3 separate regions of the Homo sapiens genome follow, and regions 2 and 3 are each linked to region 1. Evidence: fine-mapped expression QTL. A gene starts in region 1. Each other region holds a variant in brackets. All regions are shown on one strand. Distances are from middle to middle. Region 1 holds the start of CATSPER2 (cation channel sperm associated 2). Region 2 overlaps FRMD5 (FERM domain containing 5). Region 3 overlaps WDR76 (WD repeat domain 76).

Evidence for each region. PIP is the estimated chance that this variant, and not a neighbour inherited with it, causes the effect. A credible set is the group of variants that fine-mapping cannot tell apart.
Region 2: its variant is the best candidate, but not a certain one, in a credible set for the expression of CATSPER2 in transverse colon (GTEx, PIP 0.83).
Region 3: its variant is the best candidate, but not a certain one, in a credible set for the expression of CATSPER2 in whole blood (INTERVAL, PIP 0.56).

What each region holds. Positions count from the first base shown.
Region 1 is chr15:43,646,363-43,653,653 of GRCh38, forward strand. It overlaps CATSPER2 (cation channel sperm associated 2), which reads right to left and starts at 2,482. Exons shown (of 13, transcript NM_172095.4): 1 at 2,267-2,482; 2 at 1,555-1,701; 3 at 932-1,105; 4 at 688-756. The coding sequence starts at 1,699. It also overlaps the pseudogene PPIP5K1P1-CATSPER2 and the pseudogene PDIA3P2.
Region 2 is chr15:44,028,452-44,035,742 of GRCh38, forward strand. The region is part of intron 1 of FRMD5 (FERM domain containing 5); the gene reads right to left. Among named protein-coding and RNA genes, the nearest start is that of FRMD5, 160 kb to the right of the region's middle. The variant T/TACTGGTACTAAA (reference allele first, on the strand shown) is at 3,534.
Region 3 is chr15:43,846,460-43,853,750 of GRCh38, forward strand. It overlaps WDR76 (WD repeat domain 76), which reads left to right. Exons shown (of 13, transcript NM_024908.4): 9 at 4,628-4,786. Among named protein-coding and RNA genes, the nearest start is that of WDR76, 23 kb to the left of the region's middle. The variant TTTTTA/T (reference allele first, on the strand shown) is at 3,808.

The DNA of each region.
Region 1 (7,291 bases):
CGTCCTCCTGCCTCAGCCTACTGAGTAGCTGGGATTACAGGTGCCCACCACCACGCCCAGCTAATTTTTTCTATTTTTAGTACAGATGGGGTTTCAACATGTTGGCTAGGCTGGTCTTGAATTCCTGACCTCAAGTGATTCAACCACCTCGGCCTCCCAAAGTGCTGAGATTACAGGTGTGAGCTACCGTGCCCAGCGAATATTTCTAGATTTTAGCAGTTGCATAAATTCTACTCCAGGAGGCTTAATATAATTGTCCTTAATATAAATGTCACATTTCAAATGACATTCAAAAATGTAAAATGATCAATTTAGAAAAAAAAATTACTCCTACCCACTTCCTCTTTTTCTTTTTCTTTTTTTTTTTTTTGAGACAGAGTTGTACTCTGTCGCCCAGGCTGAAATGCAGTGGCACAATCTCGGCTCACTGAAACCTACGCCTCCTGGGTTTAAGCGATTCTCCTGCCTCAGCCTCCCAAGTAGCTGGGACTACAAGCGCGTGCTACCAAGCCCGGCTAATTTTTTGTATTTTTTAGTAGAGACAGGGTTTCACCATGTTGCCCAGGCTGGTCTCCAACTCCTGAGCTCCGGCAATCCACACGCCCCGGCCTCCCAAAGTGCTAGGATTACACGTGTGAGCCGGCGTGCCCGGCCTCACTTCCTCTTTCATACAAGGTCAGTTCTCACCTATTTCAACCATCAATATGATCGTATTCAAAAAGACCAGGAAGATGATGAAGTTTTTGAAGAGAGGACCTGTTGTCTCTTAAGGAAATGTACAGAGTGGAGTTCTTTCTGATTTATGCAGCTGAAATAATAAGAGCAATAACATAAGCAGTGAAAATGAGACAGTGGAGTATGGGGAGCAAAAAATAAGTCATTAGGCAGATGATCAACAGCCAGGATAAAAATGAGTGACATGAAAGGATACACTCAAGGACCCATCCGGCCCACAAAGAAAGAGGTGGCCTCTGACTGCAGCGCACATGAAGCCTGCTCAACAGCCTCTGGGCATGTGAAATCTGTTCTATACGCTGAGGCTTTATAGAGAAACGCACTAGCTGGTGTTGATCTCCCAATACAAGTTTCTTCTGGCGGGAAGGATCTACAACAAAAATTAAAAAGGGATAGTGGATAAATACAAACAAAATAGACCAGGTAGGGTTGGGGGCAGGGATACTGGTCAGGTAATGGGTTCCCCTAATGCCTTACTGCTAGTCCTTCTCTTCTCACAGCAACTAAGAATTCTGTTTGGAGTGAGAGCAAATGTATTGCTTATGACCAACACTGTCCATGCCCACAAAAGCAGCAGGCTCACTCTCAAAGTTTTAAGAGTCTTTGACAGAAACTCTTCCCAATCATCCATGGCTAGTGGCTATCCTAGGCCTAAAAGTGAAAGACGTGGATTCTATCTCTTCAGTTTTATTTACAAGCCCTTGATTTATCAAGTTTGGTAAACCAGCAACTAAACCTCCCCAGAATTTTCCACTCTTAAATGTAGAGGATGTGGATAGGAGTCTTAAATTTAAATTAGTGAAGAAATAGGCTGCTGACCAAGTAACTCCCTGATAGTGTGCCGCGGCACAGCTTGGCTCAAGCCTTGCAAATGCTCAATGAGAGAGAAAGTATCGATGAGACGTGAACGAATGGCATCAGCTCGGGGAAGCTGCATCTGCTCTTCTTGTTGGTAAGCGGCCATGTCTGCTAAGAAAATGTAAGCATCAAGTGTCATTTCATTCTTGGAGCTGCACCAAGGATTACAGGTTTTCTGTCCCCTCCTCCCCACCCTCTTTACCCTTAAGATTCCTTAATGTACCCACATCTACGAACTAGGAGCAGTTGGGAAGAACAAACATTCTACTAGGACTCAGGGTGTTTTGAAACAAAAGGGGCTAAGTGGTAAAGACATTGCACAGTCGACCAAGCGGCCAGGCATCTTCACTTTGTGATGGCATTTCTAATTAAAACTCATTAAAAACAAAACAAAACAAACAAAAACACCGCAAGAAAAAGGAGCAGCCACAAGGGCAGGGGCCCGGGGCTGGACAAAGAATCTGGGTCCCACCTGTGCCTGAGACAATCGGGCAATGAGGTGGAGTTGGGGGAGGTCTTGGCCTGCTCACGCAAGAGAAACCAAGTGCAGAGAAATTGGACAAAATGCCAAAGCCTGACATTTTGAAAATGGGTCCCGTCCCAAGTGTGTCCACTCCAACACTCCTTCGGGGGCTAGCTCCTTCTCTCCTCCATTCTCGCTTCTGGGCCTCACCTCAGCCCAGGTTCTCTTTGCCCACTCAGTCCTTATTTCACGCTTCCGCCTCCAGCTCAGGTGCCCCGAGCCTGGCTACCCCTATGCAAGACGAGCTCAGGGCCGGCTCCCAGCCTCACTGCGCCCCATTCCCCGCCCCGCTCGACCCCCAGGTTTCGGCTCACCCCGGGACCCGGCCCTAGCCCCTACCCACAGCCCAGGACCATGCGGAGCAACGCTCGCCCAGCCACTCGCCGCCTAGGCCCCGCCCCGCCCCGCTCTCCGGCCACTCAGCGGTAACCAGCTGGTCCCGCCCGCCGGACGAAGGCGACGCGCAGCCAATCAGCGGCTGCCACACAGCGGCCCGAGCCGGGTTTGGGGGTTGGGACCTCCGGCTGCAGGTCCCCTGGGCCAGACGCGCCAGCGCAGGCAGCCGGTTTGTGGTCGCGCGCCCGACCTCCGCAGTCCCAGCCGAGCCGCGACCCTTCCGGCCGTCCCCACCCCACCTCGCCGCCATGCGCCTCCGCCGCCTAGCGCTGTTCCCGGGTGTGGCGCTGCTTCTTGCCGCGGCCCGCCTCGCCGCTGCCTCCGAACTCACGGACGACAACTTCGAGAGTCGCATCTCCTACACGGGATCTGCGGGCCTCATGCTCGTCGGGTTTTTCGCCCCCTGATGACGCCACTCTGCCAAGGCGGGGGAAGAAGGGCCGGGCTGGGCCGGGGCCGGGGGCGAGGGCGCGGGGAACTGTTGGGCCTACGCAGCGCCGGCGCCCTTCATTCCTGTGGGCCCCTGCTGTGGCGGGCACATTTCTCATTCCCGGGAGCTGGAGGTGCCTCGCCGAGAGCGGTGGAGTCGGTGCTGATCGGCCCAAGGAAAACCCGAAGGCTGCGCTCACGCAGGGCCTCATCCTTATCTCGGTGCTCTTGTGGCACTTCCTATTTGCAGAGGGTTTTGCCACCCCTTCCCCCAGTTCAATATGTAGCTATATTGTTTCTGCATGAGTCAGTATTAATGTTACTCCAGTCTACAGACTAGACATCCCAAAGCCTTGTAGTGGAAGCGGACGTTTCACCAAATGCAGAAGTCCTGGATCCCTAGGGTATTTCCTTTCATCTTACCTCACGCCGCACAGCCATTGGTTTCTAGCCAAGGTCACTGAGTGGCTGCAGAATGGTCCTAAGTGCTTTCTTGAGGCAGGCAATTTGTCCGTCACATGGTGTACAGTTTCTCCCTTCAGCTGATCACTTACATCTCAGTACCGGCAGATACCTCTGTCCAAACGAAAAGAGTACCTGAACAAGAATAATTCCATCATAATCTGTCCATATTGTCCATTTTAATTAGGATTTCTTTAAAATGTCAATACTCCGAATAGGAACAGCTCCAGTCGACAGCTCCCAGCATGAGTGACGCAGAAGACGGGTGATTTCTGCATTTCCATCTGAGGTACCCGGTTCATCTCAATAGGGAGTGCCAGACAGTGGGCGCAGGTCAGTGGGTGCGCGCACTGTGCACGAGCCGAAGCAGGGCGAGGCATTGCCTCACTCGGGAAGCGCAAGGGGTCAGGGAGTTCCCTTTCCTAGTCAAAGAAAGTGGTGACAGACAGCACCTGGAAAATCGGGTCACTCCCACCCGAAAACTTCGCTTTTCCGACGGGCTTAAAAAACAGCGCACCAGGAGATTATATCCCGCACCTGGCTCGGAGGGTCCTACACCCACGGAGTCTCGCTGATTGCTAGCACAGCAGTCTGAGATCAAACTGCAAGGCGGCAGCGAGGCTGGGGGAGGGGTGCCTGCCATTGCCCAGGCTTGCTTAGGTAAACAAAGCAGCCGGGAAGCTCGAACTGGGTGGAGCCCACCACAGCTCAAGGAGGCCTGCCTGCCTCTGTAGGCTCCACCTCTGGGGGCAGGGCACAGACAAACAAAAAGACAGCAGTAACCTCTGCAGACTTAAATGTCCCTGTCTGACAGCTTTGAAGAGAGCAGTGGTTCTCCTAGCACGCAGCTGGAGATCTGAGAACGGCCAGACTGCCTCCTCAAGTGGGTCCCTGACCCCTGACCCCCAAGCAGCCTAACTGGGAGGCAACCCCCAGCAGGGGCAGACTGACACCTCACACGGCCAGGTACTCCAACAGACCTGCAGCTGAGGGTCCTGTCTGTTAGAAGGAAAACTAACAAACAGAAAGGACGTCCACACCAAAAACCCATCTGTACATCACCATCATCGAAAACCAAAAGTAGATAGAACCACAAAGATGGGGAAAAAACAGAGCAGAAAAACTGCAAACTCTAAAAAGCAGAGCACCTCTCCTCCTCCAAAGGAACACAGTTCCTCACCAGCAACGGAACAAAGCTGGACGGAGAATGACTTTGACGAGCTGAGAGAAGAAGGCTTCAGACGATCAAATTACTCTGAGCTACGGGAGGACATTCAAACCAAAGGCAAAGAAGTTGAAAACTTTGAAAAAAATTTAGAAGAATGTATAACTACAATAACCAATACAGAGAAGTGCTTAAAGGAGCTGATGGAGCTGAAAGCCAAGGCTCAAGAACTACGTGAAGAATGCAGAAGCCTCAGGAGCCGATGCAATCAACTGGAAGAAAGGGTATCAGCGATGGAAGATGAAATGAATGAAATGAAGCGAGAAGGGAAGTTTAGAGAAAAAAGAATAAAAAGAAATGAGCAAAGCCTCCAAGAAATATGGGACTATGTGAAAAGACCAAATCTACGTCTGACTGGTGTACCTGAAAGTGATGGGGAGAATGGAACCAAGTTGGAAAACACTCTACAGGATATTATCCAGGAGAACTTCCCCAATCTAGCAAGGCAGGCCAACATTCAGATTCAGGAAATACAGAGAATGCCACAAAGATACTCCTCGAGAAGAGCAACACCAAGACACATAATTGTCAGATTCACCAAAGTTGAAATGAAGGAAAAAATGTTAAGGGCAGCCAGAGAGAAAGGTGGGTTACCCTGAAAGGGAAGCCCATCAGGCTAACAGCAGATCTCTCGGCATAAACTCTACAAGCCAGAAGAGAGTGGGGGCCAATATTCAACATTCTTAAAGAAAAGAATTTTCAACCCAGAATTTCATATCCAGCCAAATTAAGCTTCATAAGTGAAGGAGAAATAAAATACTTTACAGACAAGCAAATGCTGAGAGATTTTGTCACCACCAGGCCTGCCCTAAAAGAGCTCCTGAAGGAAGCACTAAACATGGACAGGAACAAACGGTACCAGCCGCTGCAAAATCATGCCAAAATGTAAAGACCATCGAGACTAGGAAGAAACTGCATCAACTAATGAGCAAAATAACCAGCTAACATCATAATGACAGGATCAAATTCACACATAACAATATTAACTTTAAATGTAAATGGACTAAATGCTCCAATTAAAAGACACAGACTGGCAAATTGGATAAAGAGTCAAGACCCATCAGTGTGCTGTATTCAGGAAACCCATCTCACGTGCAGAGACACACATAGGCTCAAAATAAAAGGATGGAGGAAGATCTACCAAGCAAATGGAAAACAAAAAAAGGCAGGGGTTGCAATCCTAGTCTCTGATAAAACAGACTTTAAACCAACAAAGATCAAAAGAGACGAAGGCCATTACTTAATGATCAATTAAGTAATTAAGGCCTTGTTGATCAATTCAACAAGAAGAGCTAACTATCCTAAATATATATGCACCCAATACAGGAGCACCCAGATTCATAAAGCAAGTCCTGAGTGACCTACAAAGAGACTTAGACTCCCACACATTAATAATGGGAGACTTTAACACCCCACTGTCAACATTAGACAGATCAACGAGACAGAAAGTCAACAAGAATACCCAGGAATTGAACTCAGCTCTCCACCAAGCGGACCTAATAGACATCTACAGAACTCTCCACCCCAAATCAACAGAATATACGTTTTTTTCAGCACCACACCACACCTATTCCAAAATTGGCCACATAGTTGGAAGTAAAGCTCTCCTCAGCAAATGTAAAAGAACAGAAATTATAACAAACTATCTCTCAGACCACAGTGCAATCAAACTAGAACTCAGGATTAAGAATCTCACTCAAAACCGCTCAACTACATGGAAACTGAACAACCTGCTCCTGAATGACTACTGGGTACATAACGAAATGAAGGCAGAAATAAAGATGTTCTTTGAAACCAACGAGAACAAAGACACAACATACCAGAATCTCTGGGACACATTCAAAGCAGTGTGTAGAGGGAAATTTATAGCACTAAATGCCCACAAGAGAAAGCAGGAAAGATCCAAAATTGACACCCTAACATCACAATTAAAAGAACTAGAAAAGCAAAAGCAAACACATTCAAAAGCTAGCAGAAGGCAAGAAATAACTAAAATCAGAGCAGAACTGAAGGAAATAGAGACACAAAAAACCCTTCAAAAAATTAACGAATCCAGGAGCTGGTTTTTTGAAAGGATCAACAAAATTGATAGACCGCTAGCAAGACTAATAAAGAAAAAAAGAGAGAAGAATCAAATAGATGCAATAAAAAATGATAAAAGGGATATCACCACCAATCCCACAGAAATACAAACTACCATCAGAGAATACTACAAACACGTCTACGCAAATAAACCAGAAAATCTAGAAGAAATGGATAAATTCCTCGACACATACACTCTCCCAAGACTAAACCAGGAAGAAGTTGAATCTCTGAATAGACCAATAACAGGAGCTGAAATTGTGGCAATAATCAATAGCTTACCAACGAAAAAGAGTCCAGGACCAGATGGATTCACAGCCAAATTCTACCAGAGGTACAAGGAGGAACTGGTACCATTCCTTCTGAAACTATTCCAATCAATAGAAAAAGAGGGAATCCTTCCTAACTCATTTTATGAGGCCAGCATCATCCTGATACCAAAGCCGGGCAGAAACACAACCAAAAAAGAGAATTTTAGACCAATATCCTTGATGAACATTGATGCAAAAATCCTCAATAAAATACTGGCAAACCGAATCCAGCAGCACATCAAAAAGCTTATCCACCATGATCAAGTGGGC
Region 2 (7,291 bases), 380 kb after region 1:
TGTTTGGGAGTCTAGAGAAGATCAACTCTCAGGCAGCCTCCACCACAACATGGTGCACAGAAACAGTGACTCAGCGTTGTAGCAGGTCTGGTAGAGAAGTGTCTGAGGTTCAGGTTTCCTGAGCCCCCATAGTTCCCATAAGGCACAGATACTGAGAGATTATAAGAGGATGAACTGGATGGCAGACACACCAGAGGCTCAGGGGGGTGCAACCAGAAGTCAGGGGGAGGCCCAGGTAGCCAGAGTGCTACTGGGTTCTGAGCAAGCAGCCTACAGCCACATATTTCAGCCCTAAATGACAGCAGAACAAGCAGCACTAAAGTGGATGAGGGACCTTGCCCCTGAGACCAGGAGACACCTATGGCCATCATTTATGACACTACCCCAAGGGACTGTCTGAATTACTGGATCAGTTTAAGCTTTAAACTAGACTGGATATTTAGGTAATTTTTCTCTCCTGGTCTCAGGATAAAGGCTGTAAAGACATTGACAAAGAAGTGACATTTTCTCTGAGGAAGGCTCAAAGAAATAGACTAAACCATTTCTATTTTATTTACCACTACATCCACTGCTTTAACAGTGCCTGACATAAGTAGGTATTCAACAAATATTTGCCAAATGAAGGAATGAATAAGAGGCCATAGTGAGAGGAAACTGATCAACTAGCAAAGCTATGATAGAAATACCAGGCAGGCTGAATTGAAAAAACAATGCCAGTTCCATTTTGGCACCAAGCCAAAAAAGTCCCCACTTCACTCCTAAAACAAGTTTGTAACCTTTATGGAATGGCTCCTGCCACCATATTTAACTTACATTTGGTTCACTGTTTAAAGCCCTTCGGATAACACTGCTGCATCCTTTTGCTTCAAGGAAAAAAAAAAACCAGAACCACAAATAGCTGTGCAGGATTTCGACCTTGCAGTCACAATAAGAAAGCAGCAATAGGAACCAGAATGGGTGATGTCTGAACCAATAAACTAACTCTGGTGTTTAGCAGCAACTTTATTTTACCTGCCCCAGGATAATTTCAGTGTTAAAGCTATTAAACCTATAGGTATTCTAGTGGCTAGGATTAGTAAACAGAACATAACAGGGAACAGTACAGAGAAAATATGGTAACTAAAATACAAGCTTATACAGGATTGAGGTGGAGACACAGGCTGACATATGCTGACATGGTAACTAAAACACAAGGCTATATAGGATTGAGGTGCAGACATATTCAATCACTGTACTTTCCACAGTAAATTTGTTTCTCAACACTCTAGCAATAACATTAAAATTACCTATCAGGCTTTAAAACAGAACAGATGCTTAGAGATTCCGATTCAGTAGGTCTGGGGTGGAGCATACGCAATGCTAATTTTTAGTAACGTCTCAGGTGATTCTGATGCATGGCCACAGCATTCTGCAAGTGAGAACACCTGAAGAACATCATCAGTAAACACTGAAAGAACTTATGAATGAAAAGCCTCTTTGAATTATATATTTTTTGAGTATGGACTATGTTTTATTCATTTTTGTACTCTAGCCTCCAATGTTTCTGGTAATTAAAGAATAAGTGAACAAACAAATCACAAATTCTCTGCCTTGGTAGCCTGATGCTCTCAAAGAGACTGGAACATGGGAAACAAAAAAGTTGACAGCTGATGTTGTAAATCTGTACTTCCTGGAACAGAATTCCTGGCATAACTTTAGGCAGACTAAATGGGAATGAACATGTGTGATCATTACAACACTGATTTTTTTTTTTTACAAAATTAATTTTTGTTGAACTGGGGTGAGGGGTGAGGGAAGGAGGGGAAATTGGTGCTCTAATAAGATTTACGTATCCAAATCCCATACCCAGAGTCAGATTATGAAGAGCAGAATCACAAAGCCACTCCATTTATAAATCCTGATTCTGCCCTCTACTGTTTGTTTATTTTTGTATTTACTTCTCCTTGAGCAACAGTATAATGTACAACTGAAAATACTTAGTGTTACTGACAAGATTTATAATTCAGCACTACTTTATGTGTTAATGACTTCAAAGCCCTGGATGAATAAAGCGAACAGGGATTGACTCAGTGAAACTTCTAGCTTCCTGTAAACTTCATTCATTCTCAAGCTTAATGGAAACAAAACCCTATGCTAGGAAAAAGCAAGTATGTTTCCCTTTCTGAGTCTCCCTAGTTAAACACTATAATCAATGGCAACTCCACCTTGTAGCAAAGCTCAGTGATACCATGGATCCCATTACAATCCCCAAAAAGGAGAAGGTGAAGGAGGAGGAAGATGGAAGTTTGGCATGGTTTGACTCTGTCTCCACAAAATCTGCAGTCTTTCTGTCACCCTCACACTTGAAGTTACGTGGAAAGGAAGAAGAGGGAAGTGCTGGATGAGAGAAACTTAAGAGTGCAAAGTCTGAAAAAGATAGGAGAGAGAATAATGGTCTGAACTAAATAGGCAGAAGAAATCTATTCTCTATTAAAACAACAAGAATTTGCCGAAGCAGGTTTTCCAAAAGAGACCAGAAAAAGAAAAAAAAAAAGAAGCCCTAAAGTGATGCAGGAGGAGTGTCAGTCAGTCTGACTGGGTCTCCTAGTCAAAAGCTCTGGCCAAGTGACTAGATACTCACATGCTCTACAACCCTAGTGAGGAGTGCTTTGGGCTCCCACCTGCCTGGATGGATGGGTGCTGCACACTCAGCTACCTGCTTGGGTGATAAAAATAATTAGAATAGTGGTGTAGATGAAGGTTGAAGTCCTTGAAAAGTGCAAGAATATAAAGTTCTGCCCAGGGCCCCTCTTCCACAGGGGAGAAAAAAAAGCCACACACAACTGGATATTACAGTTATCCCATCATTTCTCTATGAAAATATAAAAACAAAATTAATGTTTGTCTTAGTCCATTTGGGCTTCTGTAACAAAATACCATAACCTGGGTGGCTTATAAACAACAGAAATTTATTTCTCATAGTTCTGGAGGCTGAGAATCTAAGATTAAGGTGCCAGCCATTCATGGTGTCTGGTAAGGGCCCTCTTCTTGGTTCATAGATGGTGCCTTCTTAATATGTCCTTACATGGTGGAAGGGGAGAAATCTGGTATCTTCAACCCCTTATAAGGTCATTAATCCCAATCATGAGTACTCTATCCTCATGACCTAACCACCTCCCGAAGGCCCCATCTTCTAATACCATCACACTGGGGATTAGGTTTCAACATATGAATTTTGCAGGGTACAAACATGTTCAGTCCATGGCAATGTTAACCCCTTTTGGTCCTATTTCACGTAGTCCAGTATTTGGTGGCTATTTTCATGATATTCCCCAATCATCTTATCCTTACATCTGCCTTAACTTTAAGATTACTTGAACGTTAGAGAAACTAAAAATGGGGACATCTTTCATTTTTATCAAATGATTATTCTGCTCCAACTCTATAGATTATAGATGCAAATCTTTATGGATCAGGTCCCTTGAGAGCTATTTTAAAATTCAAGCAGGGTAGAAAATAATTCCTGCAAGTCTACAGTACCCAAAACAGCATAG[T/TACTGGTACTAAA]ACTGGTACTAAAACAGGCACATAGACCAATGGAACAGAATAGAGAGCCCAGGAATAAGGCTGCACATCTATGACCATCTGATCTTCAACAAAGCTGACAAAAACAAGCAACGGGGAAAAAGACTCCCTATTCAATAAATGGTGGTGGGAAAACTGTCTATCCATATGCAGAAGATAGAAACTGGACCCCTTCCTTACATTATATACAAAAATCAACTCAAGATGGATAAAGACTTAACTGTAAAACCCAAAACTATGAAAACCCTGGAAGACAACCTAGGCAATACCATCCTGGACATAGGAACAAGCAAAGATTTCATGACAAAGATGCCAAAAGCAATTGCTATGAAAGCAAAAATTGACAAGTGGGATCTAATTAAACTGAAGAGCTTCTGCAGACACAGCAAAAGAAACTGTCCACAGAGTAAACAGACAACCTACAGAATGGAGAAAATATTTTCAAACTATGCATCTGACAAAGGTGTAATATCCAGCATCCATAAGGAACTTAAATTTACAAGAAAAAACAAACAACCCCATTAAAAAGTGGGCAAAGGACACAAACAGACACTTCTCAAAAGAAGACATACATGCAGCCAACAAGCATATGGAAAAAAAGCTCAATATCACTCATCATTAGAGAAATGCAAATCAGAACCACAAGGAGATACCATCTCACACCAGTCAGAAAGGCTATTATTAAAAAGTCAAAATATAACAGATACTTGTGAGGTTGTGGAGAAAAGGGAACACTTATACACTGTTGGTGGGAGTGTAAATTAGTTCAACCATTGTGGAAAGCAGTATGGCAATTCCTCGCTACAAAGAGCTCAACAGCAGAGCTACCATTGGACCCAGCAATCCCATTACTGGGTATATACCCAGAGGAAGATAAATCATTTTGCCATAAAGACACATGCATGTGGATGTTTACTGCAGCATTATTCACAACAGCAGAGACAAGGAATCAACCTAAATGCCCATCAATGACAGATTGCATAAAGAAAATATGGTACATATACACCATGGAATACTATGCAGCCATAAAAAAGAACAAGGTCATGTCTTTTGCAGGAACATGGATGGAGCTGGAGGCTATTATTCTTAGAAAAATAACACAGTTACAGAAAACCAAATACCACATGTTCTTACTTATAAGTGGTAGCTAAATGATAAAATATAATTTTGCTAATTATAGCTAAATTATAAGAACCTATAAACACAAGAAGGAAATAACAGACACTGGGTCTACTTGAAGGGGGAGGATGCGAGGAGAGAAAGGAGCAGAAAAGATAACTATTGGATACTGGGCTTAATATCTGGGTGATGAAATAATATCTACAACAAACCCCTGTAACACATGTTTACATATGTAAAAAACCTTCACATGTGCCTCCAAACCTAAAAGTTAAAAAAAAAATAAAGTTTTTCAAACTGATAAGAGGCAAATTCTCTTTTAAGAGGCATTTCAATAAATATCCCAAATAATAGTTTTTGTTCAAGTCTCTTTTTTGATATAGCATAAATGAACTTAATATTTTCATATATAATTTTCATTGTGTATATTCACTTGAAGCTTTCATTTATTCCATTGTTTACACTTGCTTTGTAAGATTTTTGTACAGAGAATTACACCAGTAAACAATTCTAATATTTCGAAAATGGTTTTAGTTCTGAGCTAATTTCAAAAACGGGAAGAGAAAAGGCAGTAGAATATAATGATTAAAATCATGGGCATAAACATCAAACTCCTTGAGTTCAAATTCTGATTCTGAAACTTAGTAACTGGGTGAGTTGGGGTAAGTTGTTTGAACTCTCTTAGGCTAGCTTCCTCTACAACATGAGTGAAAACGGTTTGTCCCTAAGATTCGTAAGAATTAAATAAGATCATTTATGTTTGAGGCTTGGCATACTGTCTGGTATTTATTAAGTGTTCAATAAAAGGTGATTAGGATTCGCTCTTATTTATTTGATCTAGAGTATAAATTTTCCCATGAAGCATTTATACAGGAAAACACAATAGGCCACAGACAAGGCATCTCTGATATTGGTCATCAGAAAGACTCCAGGAGTCTGCCCAGTCACATGGGGTTCTGGAATTTAGCCAGGCTGCTGAGTGGAAACTGTTACTCTTGTTTCCTTGGCAATAGTCTGGGCATGAGAAAGATCTCAATTTTTGATAATCAAAAGTCAATGAAAAATATGCTCCTTAGGCAGGTGTCTAATTGAATGTTGTCTACTTGAAAAGTACAGTGATACAATTCACCATAACAGGGTCTTAAAAGTTTACTAATCACACAGGAATGATTACTGTTCATTCAACCTCCTTTTTCAGCAATTTATTTTTTCAGGTTTTCTAGTTAGAATTATTTGACTACCTACTTATATGGTCTGTTACCCTGACCAAGTAATACCCATGTGTTGTCTTTAAAGGTTCACTTGGTCTACACTTGGGTTCACGGACTTCTAAATGCTGGGAAACAAAGTTACATTCCTCTCACTTGCCACCTGCATTAGTTTCTGCTTCTGCATCAGTAAATTTTGCAATAAAAGATTATTGTGAAATAAGCACATATTCCCTTTCATACTCCTTTGGGAGTTAATGGGGTTATGTGCCCATCTATCTTAGGAAAATATTTCCCCCTTACTTAGCACTGTCTGGAGCAGGAAGACGTAAGGCTTGTCTAAGTCTGTGCCCCAACCTCCAAGTTGCATCCTCAGCAACTTCAGCTAATTTTAGATTTAGCTCTTTTTCCAGGCTTTGGGCAGTCTGAAACTTGGGAGCTGAGGGGGGAAGAGAAGAGTTAAGAAGCCCTAGTCAAACACCGATGAGTTCTACATGAGGCTCATTCTAGCCCTAACCTAACAACTGGGTGCTTCTAACTATTTTCCCTCTACCCAGGTTAGAGATCTCTCCAACCTGTCCACTTGTATATCCAATCCCTTCTTTTTGATACCTCAGTCCCTAAAGCTGGTTCCCTGAAACAGTGAATGTTCCTTGCTCCCCATTTCCACTGGCCTATCAGAACACTTAATTCTTGTTAGAATTCTGCTGTTTTCACTTTCTATATTTGCTTAAGACCTGGTACTATATTTAAAATTTCTGATGTAGCATATGCAGCAGTTTCCAGACTTCAGTCCAAACCCCAAAGAGCCTGCAATCATGGTGTCACAGGTGACTCTTCCGGGGCTAAGTCACAAGATATGGTTCCATACCCAAAAAACACTCTACATAACCAGTGGTTTTAAAATTTTTCTTGTCTTGCCATGCCATGCTGACAAAAGGCCATAAAGACCTTAAGGAATATACAATTGCTAGCAATTAAATCAACCTTGAACAGGTTGTATACCACTTAGGTCTGGTCTGAGCTCAAGTTTTGAACATTTACACATCTAGAACATTCTCCTAAGTGTTACTCTGGTGGTGTAAAGAAGCAACACGTCAGACTTTGCCTGTGCCTGACTGGCTGTGAGTCAAACACACAGTATCCTGGATGACTGCTATTTTGGCATTTGCTAGAATGTCTTTTGCCAAATTCCTCCAGCATTCATTTGAAGGCATCAAAATCCGTTTTACCTCCCAAAGAGTATTTGATTTTTCTTGGCCAAAAAATGCCTGTTATGATGTACTTATTAATGTTGCTAGGGTAAAACAGAAGTAATAAAATTTGGAGACCCTTTTGGATCTGTCAGGGATGTGCCATTATGCAAATGTTTCTTATTAGAGGTTGGTACCTGACTATTTTTTCTTTGGACCA
Region 3 (7,291 bases), 200 kb after region 1:
CTTTTTGTAGAGATGGGTCTCACTATGTTGCCTAGGCTCATCTCAAACTCCTGAGCTCAAGCACTCCACCTGCTTCAGCCTCCCAAAGTGCTGGGATTACAGGTGTGAGCCACCACACCCATCTGAGACTACTTTTTGAAGAATTTTGCAAAGGAAAAATTGAAAATTAGCATGATTAAATGAAGGTTTTTTTTTGGATGAGTTGATCTGTATAGATTTAAGACATACATAAAAATCCTTTTTTCATATCTTTCATGATGACTCCAAAAATCTGTATTACAGCCGGACGCGGTGGCTCACACCTGTGATCCCAGCACTTTGGGATGCCAAGGTTTGGCGGATCACCTGAGGTCTGGAGTTCAAGACCAGCCTGAACAACATGATGAAATCCCATCTCTACTAAAGATACAAAATTAGCCGGGCATGGTGGCACATGCCTGTAATCCCAGCTACTTGGGAGGCTGAGGCAGGAGATTTGCTTGAACACAGGAGACGGAGGTTGCAGTGAGCCGAGATGGCGCCATTGCACTCCAGCCTGGGAAACAAGAGCAAAACACCACCTCAAAAAAAAAAAAAAAAAAAAAAAATCTGTATTACTAGGTCTCTGTAGTCCAGTATCTCCATCAACCTAATTTTCCAGGACATTTGGCAATCTCATTAACAGATTTAACAAGTCTAAAAGCAATATTACCTTGTCTATCCTGTGCTCACAATTTCCCCAGTTTTTTTAAAAAATGGCTTCATTGAGGTAATAATTTACCTATCATAAAATCCTATTTAAAAAATGTAAAATTCAATGCTTTTTTTTCTTTTTTTTTGAGATGGGAATCTTGCTCTGTCACCCAGGCTGGAGTGCTGTGGTGTGATCCTGGCTCACTGCAATCTCTGCCTCCTGGGTTCAGGTGATTCTCGTGCCTCAGCCTCCTGAGTAGCTGGGATTATAGGCGCTCGCTGCCACACCTGGCTAATTTTTTTTTTTTTGAGACGAGTCTTGCTCTGTTGCCCAGGCTGGCATGCAGTGGCGTGATCTCTGCTCACTGCAGCCTCCGCCTCCTGGGTTCAAGCAGTTCTCTGCCTCAGCCTCCCAAGTGGCTGGGATTACAGGCGTCCGCTACCACACCTGGCTAATTTTTTTGTTTTTTTAGTAGAGATGGGGTTTCACCATCTTGGCCAGGCTGGTCTTGAACTCCTGACCTTGTAATCCACCCGCCTCGGCCTCCCAAAGTGCTGGGTTTACACGAATGAGTCACCGTGCCCAGCCTAATTTTTGTATTTTTTGTAGAGATGAGGCTTCTCCATGTTGGCCAGGCTGATCTGGAACTCCTGACCTCAAGTGATTTTCACCTGCTTCGGCCTCCCAGAGCTGCGATTACAGGCGTGAGCCACTGCACCTGGCCTCAGTGGTTTTTAATAAGTTTACTTAGTTGTTTAATTATCATAGTCTGGTTTTAGAACATTTTCATCATCCCTATAAGATCCCTCATGCTGGCTGGGTGCAGTGGCTCATGCTTGTAATTCCAGGGCTTTGGGAAGTCAAGGCAGGAGGATGGCTTAAGCCCACTAATTTGAGACCTGCCTAGGTGACATAGTGAGATGCCTGTCTCTTAAAAAAAACAAACAAACAAAAAAAAAACTGGATGTAGTGGTGTGTGCCATTAGTCCCAGCTACTCAGGAAGTTGAGCTGGGAATATCACCTGAGCTCAAGGCGGTTGAGGCTGCAGTGAGCCATGATTGTGTCACTGTACTCCAGGCTGGATTGACAGAGTGAGACCCTATCTCAAAAAAAGAAAAAAAATTCACTTACTGCAATAAGAAAGAAGCAGAACCTAATGTAGTATACTTCAAAAACTAGCTACCAAGGAGAGAAACAAATCTGTAGCAGAGCTAGGAGACAGCATAATTTAGCTTCTGCCCTGCCCCGTGTGCAGAATCTATACTGGTAAATTGACCAAATCCTGAGAATTTTCTATATTATCAAAAGTAGAGAGAAGCACATTGGGTATTCCGATTTTTCCTCTTTTCAATGAGGAATGGGGAAATAGTTGCTGGGGTGAAATCAGGAAAAATAGAAGAAGTAGGGACAGTGAGTAGTAGAACTGATTGTCTTCAAAGGAAGTTTTCTTGGCCCACGGGAGTGGTAACACCCTCCACCGCCATACAAGTAGGTGGTATGAATCCTGGTATAAAATAATGAACAAGGCCGGGCGCAGTGGCTCATGCCTGTAATCCCAACACTTTGGGAGGCTGAGGCAGGTGAATCACCTGAGGTCGAGTTCAAGATCAGCCTGACTAACATGGTGAAACCCTGTCTCTACTAAAAATACAAAATTAGCTGGGTATGGTGATGTGCACCTGTAATCCCAGCCACTTGGGAAACTAAGGCAGGAGAATTGCTTGAACCCGGGAGGCAGAGGTTGCAGTGAGCCGGCATTGCACCACTGCACTCCAGCCTGGGCGACAGAGTTGAGACTTTTTTTTTTTTTTTTTTGAGGCCAAAAAAACTGCATTTCAGATTACCTGCTGTCTCAACATGGTGAAACCCCGTCTCCACTAAAAATACAAAAATTAGCCAAGCATGGTGGTGGGTGCCTGTAATCCCAGCGACTCAGGAGGCTGAGACAGGAGAATCGCTTGAACCTGGGAGGTGGAGGTTGCAGTGAGCTGAGATCGTGCCACTGCACTCAAGCCTGGGTGACAGAGTGAGACTTCATCTCAAAAAAAAAAAAAAAAAGACTGTTGGAGGAAGGGTGAGAATAATATTCTCAAATCAATATAAATTATCTAAAATTAACAGTTTAAAAAATAAAAAGCATAATGACTACAATTGCTTTTTGTTTTATACTTTTGCCATTGTAGAAGATAATGTCTCTGTAAATACTTGAAATTCAAAAATTCCTTTAGCTTCATTTTCTTATATTATTTTGACAGATTTATGTGTACCTATACAGATAGAATGATAGCGAAGAAATTTTAAAAAAGGACCATGCTGTATATGCCGTTTTAAATCACATTAAATTTAACTATAAAGATGTCTATAATCTCAGTGTTTCAATGATAATTTTGGTTAATTTTAGATTTGGAATGATTTTTTTTTTTGAGACGGAGTCTCGCTTTGTCGCCCAGGCTGGAGTTCAGTGGTGCAATCTTGGCTCACTGCAACCTCTGCCTCCCCGGTTCAAGCAATTCTCTGCCTCAGCCTCCTGAGTAGCTGGAATTACAGGTGTCTGCCACCACGCCCGGCTAATTTTTGTATTTTTAGTAGAGACGGGGTTTCACCATCTTGGCCAGGCTGGTCTTGAATTCCTGACCTCGTGATCCACCCACCTCAGCCTCCCAAAGTGCTGGGATTACAGGTGAGCCACCGCGCCTGGCCTGGAGTGATTTTTTTAAAACTTCCATCTTTGTACATTTCTGCATTGTTTGAGTTCTTTATACCAAGAGAAAATTTTATTTTTCTAGAAAACAAATGCTATAAACAAATATGTCAGTAGTTTCTAACTCTGGTAACAGGAAGAGTATGTGTGATTATAATAATTTTTTCTCTTATTTTTTCTTTTAAAGAATACTTCTCTCCATTTTAAAATTTAAAATAAAAAAGAAAACAAAAATGCTTGACCATTTCAGAGTAGAGTAAGCCAGATTTAGAGGTGATTCTTTGGTTCATAATATGCCATATGGCATAGAAACATAACTTGTTCTGAAAAGCGACTTCTCAGGAGCTGGCAATCCAGTTGTGGAAAGGATAGTCCTTAGGAGTAGGTATATTAATATGGAAATTCAAATACATGCATTTTTATGGTGTTATT[TTTTTA/T]TTTTATTTTATTTTATTTTATTTTATTTTATTTTATTTTTTGAGACGGAGTCTTGCTCTGTCACCCAGGCTGGAGTGCAGTGGTGAGATGTCGGCTCACTGCAAGCTCCACCTCCCGGATTCATGCCATTCTCCTGCCTCAGCCTCCCGAGTAGATGGGACTACAGGTGCCGGCCACCACGCCCGGCTAGTTTTTTGTATTTTTAGTAGAGATGGGGTTTCACCATGTTAGCCAGGATGGTCTCGATCTCCTGACCTCGTGATCCGCCCGCCTTGGCCTCCCAAAGTGCTAGGATTACAGGCGTGAGCCACCGCGCCCGGCCATTTTTATGGTGCATTTAGAGGACAAAGTATGTTTAAAACCATTATCTTTGTCCCAGGACCAAATACCTTACGAAAATTACACTGAGAATGAGTAAGTTAATATTATACAGAAGAAGCCTGCTGCAGAAGCAAAGTGGTAAGGTACTGATACTGTTTTAGTTAGCAATTATACCATGTGTGAAATAGAGTAGATTTATCATTTCCTGAGGATTTTATAAACTGACAGTAATATATAAACTATTTTGTTAGTTACAGAAAGCTGGTCACTGTTAATGTGACTTGGTATTGTTGGATTGAAAACTAGAAAAAAGTTAATGACAAGATAAAGTTTCTCATTCTGACTTTGTGAAGGGGAGAGTGGTTACAATTATAGACTAAGAAAAGACTGAATATAATCCAGTGTAAATTCTTTAATGACATAATAGCATAGCAAAAATCACTATTTTTCACTAGTTTTTTTCTCTCTCCCCTTTCCCGCAACTCTCTTCCAGACCCAGCAACCTAAAGAAGATGGAGTTTATGTTTTTCATCCCCATAGTCAGCCAGTTAGCTGTCTTTACTTCTCACCCGCCAATCCGGCCCACATACTGTCACTGAGCTATGATGGCACGTTACGCTGTGGGGATTTTTCCAGGGCTATTTTTGAAGAGGTAAATGTTAATGTGTTTACATGCTGACTTCAGATGATATTCTAGATTCTTCGAAATGCCACATGAATAATTATTATACCAATTGGGAGAAGTGGTATAGCAGAAGGACTTTGAGAACTACGCTGCCTAAGTTCAAATCCCAGATCATCTGTTACTAGTTGTATGACCTTGACAAGTTGCTTAACCTTGTTGTGCCTCACTTTCCTTAGCTGTGAAATGGGATTTAACAGGACTGACCTTACAGGGTTGTCATGAGAATTTAATGAGCTTATGCAGATAAAGTACTTAGAAGAGAGCCTGGCACATAGTATGTGTTTGCGCTTGTTAAATTTCTTTTTTTTTTCTCTCCCAAAGCTTTTAACTAAAATAACTTACTCTTCTGTTTTTAGGCATAAGACTTGTATTTAGCTGGGTGTGGTGGCTCATGCTTGTAATCTCAGCACTTTGGGAAGCCAAGGTGGGAGACTCACTTCAGGCCAGGAGTTCCAGACCAGCCTGGGCAACATGGCGAGACCTTGTCTCTACAGAAAATAAAAAATATTAGCTGAGCTTGGTGGTGTGTGCCTGTAGTCTCAGCTACTCAGGAGGCTGAGGTGGGAGAATCACTTGAGCCCAGGAGTTCAAGATCAGCCTGGGCAACATAGTAAGACCTTGTCTCTAAAAAAAATTAGCTTGGTGTGGTGGCATGTGCCTGTAGTCACAGCTACTCAGGAGGCTGAGGTGTGAGGATTGCTTGAGCCCAGGAGATTGAGGCTGTAGTAAAGCCGTGATCACATACATCATTGCACTTCAGCCTGGGTGACAGAGTGAGACCCTCTCTCAAAATAAGACATCTTCTACTTAATGTTTAAAACAAACATATCATTTGAAATGAACTTTCAGATTTGCTTAACTGTATCAGATTGCCTCAATAAGATAAGTCTTATAAGTTGAACTTTTTTATTTTATTTTTTTTGAGACGGAGTTTTACTCTCGTCACCTAGGCTGGAGTGCAGTGGCGAGATCTCGGCTCACTGCAACTTCTGCCTCCCAGGTTCAAGCAATTCTTCTGCCTCAGCCTCCTGAGTAGCAGGGATTACAGGCACCCATCATCACGCCCGGGTAATTTGTTGTTGTTGTTGTTGTCGTCGTTGTTGTTGTTGTAGAGATGGAGTCTCACTCTGTCGCCCAGGCTGGAGTGCAGTGGTGCGATCTTGGCTCACTGCAAGCTCCGCCTCCCAGGTTCAAGTGATTCTCCTGTCTCAGCCTCCTGAGTAGCTGGGACTACAGGCGCATGCCACCATGCCAAGCTAATTTTTGTATTTTTAGTAGGGACGGGGTTTCACCATGTTGACCAGGCTGGTCTCGAACTCCTGACCTTGTAATCCACCTGCCTCAGCCTCCCAAAGTGCTGGGATTACAGCGTGAGCCACTGTGTGTGGTCAGATTTGCCTCTTCTGGACATTTCATATAAATGAAATCATACAATTTGTGGTCTTTTGTGACTGGTTTCTTTAACAAAATGTATTCAAAGTTCATCCATGTTGTAGCCGTGTATCAGTACTTCATTCCTTTTTATGGCTGCATAATATGCCATTGTATGGGTATTCCACATTTTATTCATCTGTTCATCAGTTGATGAACATTTGTGTTTCTATTCTTTCTTTATATATTTATTTTTGAAACAGAGTCTCGCTCTTGTTGCCCAGGCTGCAGTGCAGCAGTGCAATCTTGGCTCACTGCAACTTCCACCTCCCGGGTTCAAGCAATTCTCCTGCCTCATCCTCCTGAGTAGCTGGGATTACAGGCACGTGCCACCACACCTGGCTAATTTTTGTATTTTTAGTAGAGACAGGGTTTCCCCATGTTGGCCAGGCTGGTCTTGAACTCCTGACCTCAGGTGATCCACCCACCTTGGCCTCCCAAAGTCTTGGGATTACAGGTGTGAGCCACCACGCCTGGCCTTACTTATTTTTATTTTTTGAGATGGGGGTCTCACTCTGTCACTCCAGCTGGAGTGAAGTGGCTTGATCTCGGCTCACCGCAGCCTCTGCCTCCCAGGCTCACGTGATCCTCCCACCTAAGCCTCCTGAGTAGCTGGAACTATAGTCATGTGTCACCATGCTTGGCTAATTTTTGTATTTTTAGTAGAGACGGTGTTTTGCCATGTTGCCCAGGCTGGTCTCAAACTCCTGAGCTCAAGTGATCTGCCCACCTTGGCCTTCCAAAGTGCTGGTATTACAGGCATGAGCCACCGCGCCTGGCTGTAACTTACATTTCAATAAGCTTGACTTTAAAACAATAGGTGGAGAACTCCTATAGCTTAATTAAAAAAGCTAACCCAATTAAAAAATGGGCAAAGGATCTGAATAAACATTTCTTTAAAGAAACACAAATGGCACCGGGTGCGGTGGCTCACCCCTGTAATCCCAGAACTTTGGGAGGCTGAGGCGGGTGGATCACCTGAGGTCAGGAATTTGAGACCAGCCTGGCCAACATGGTGAAACCCCATCTCTACTAAAAATA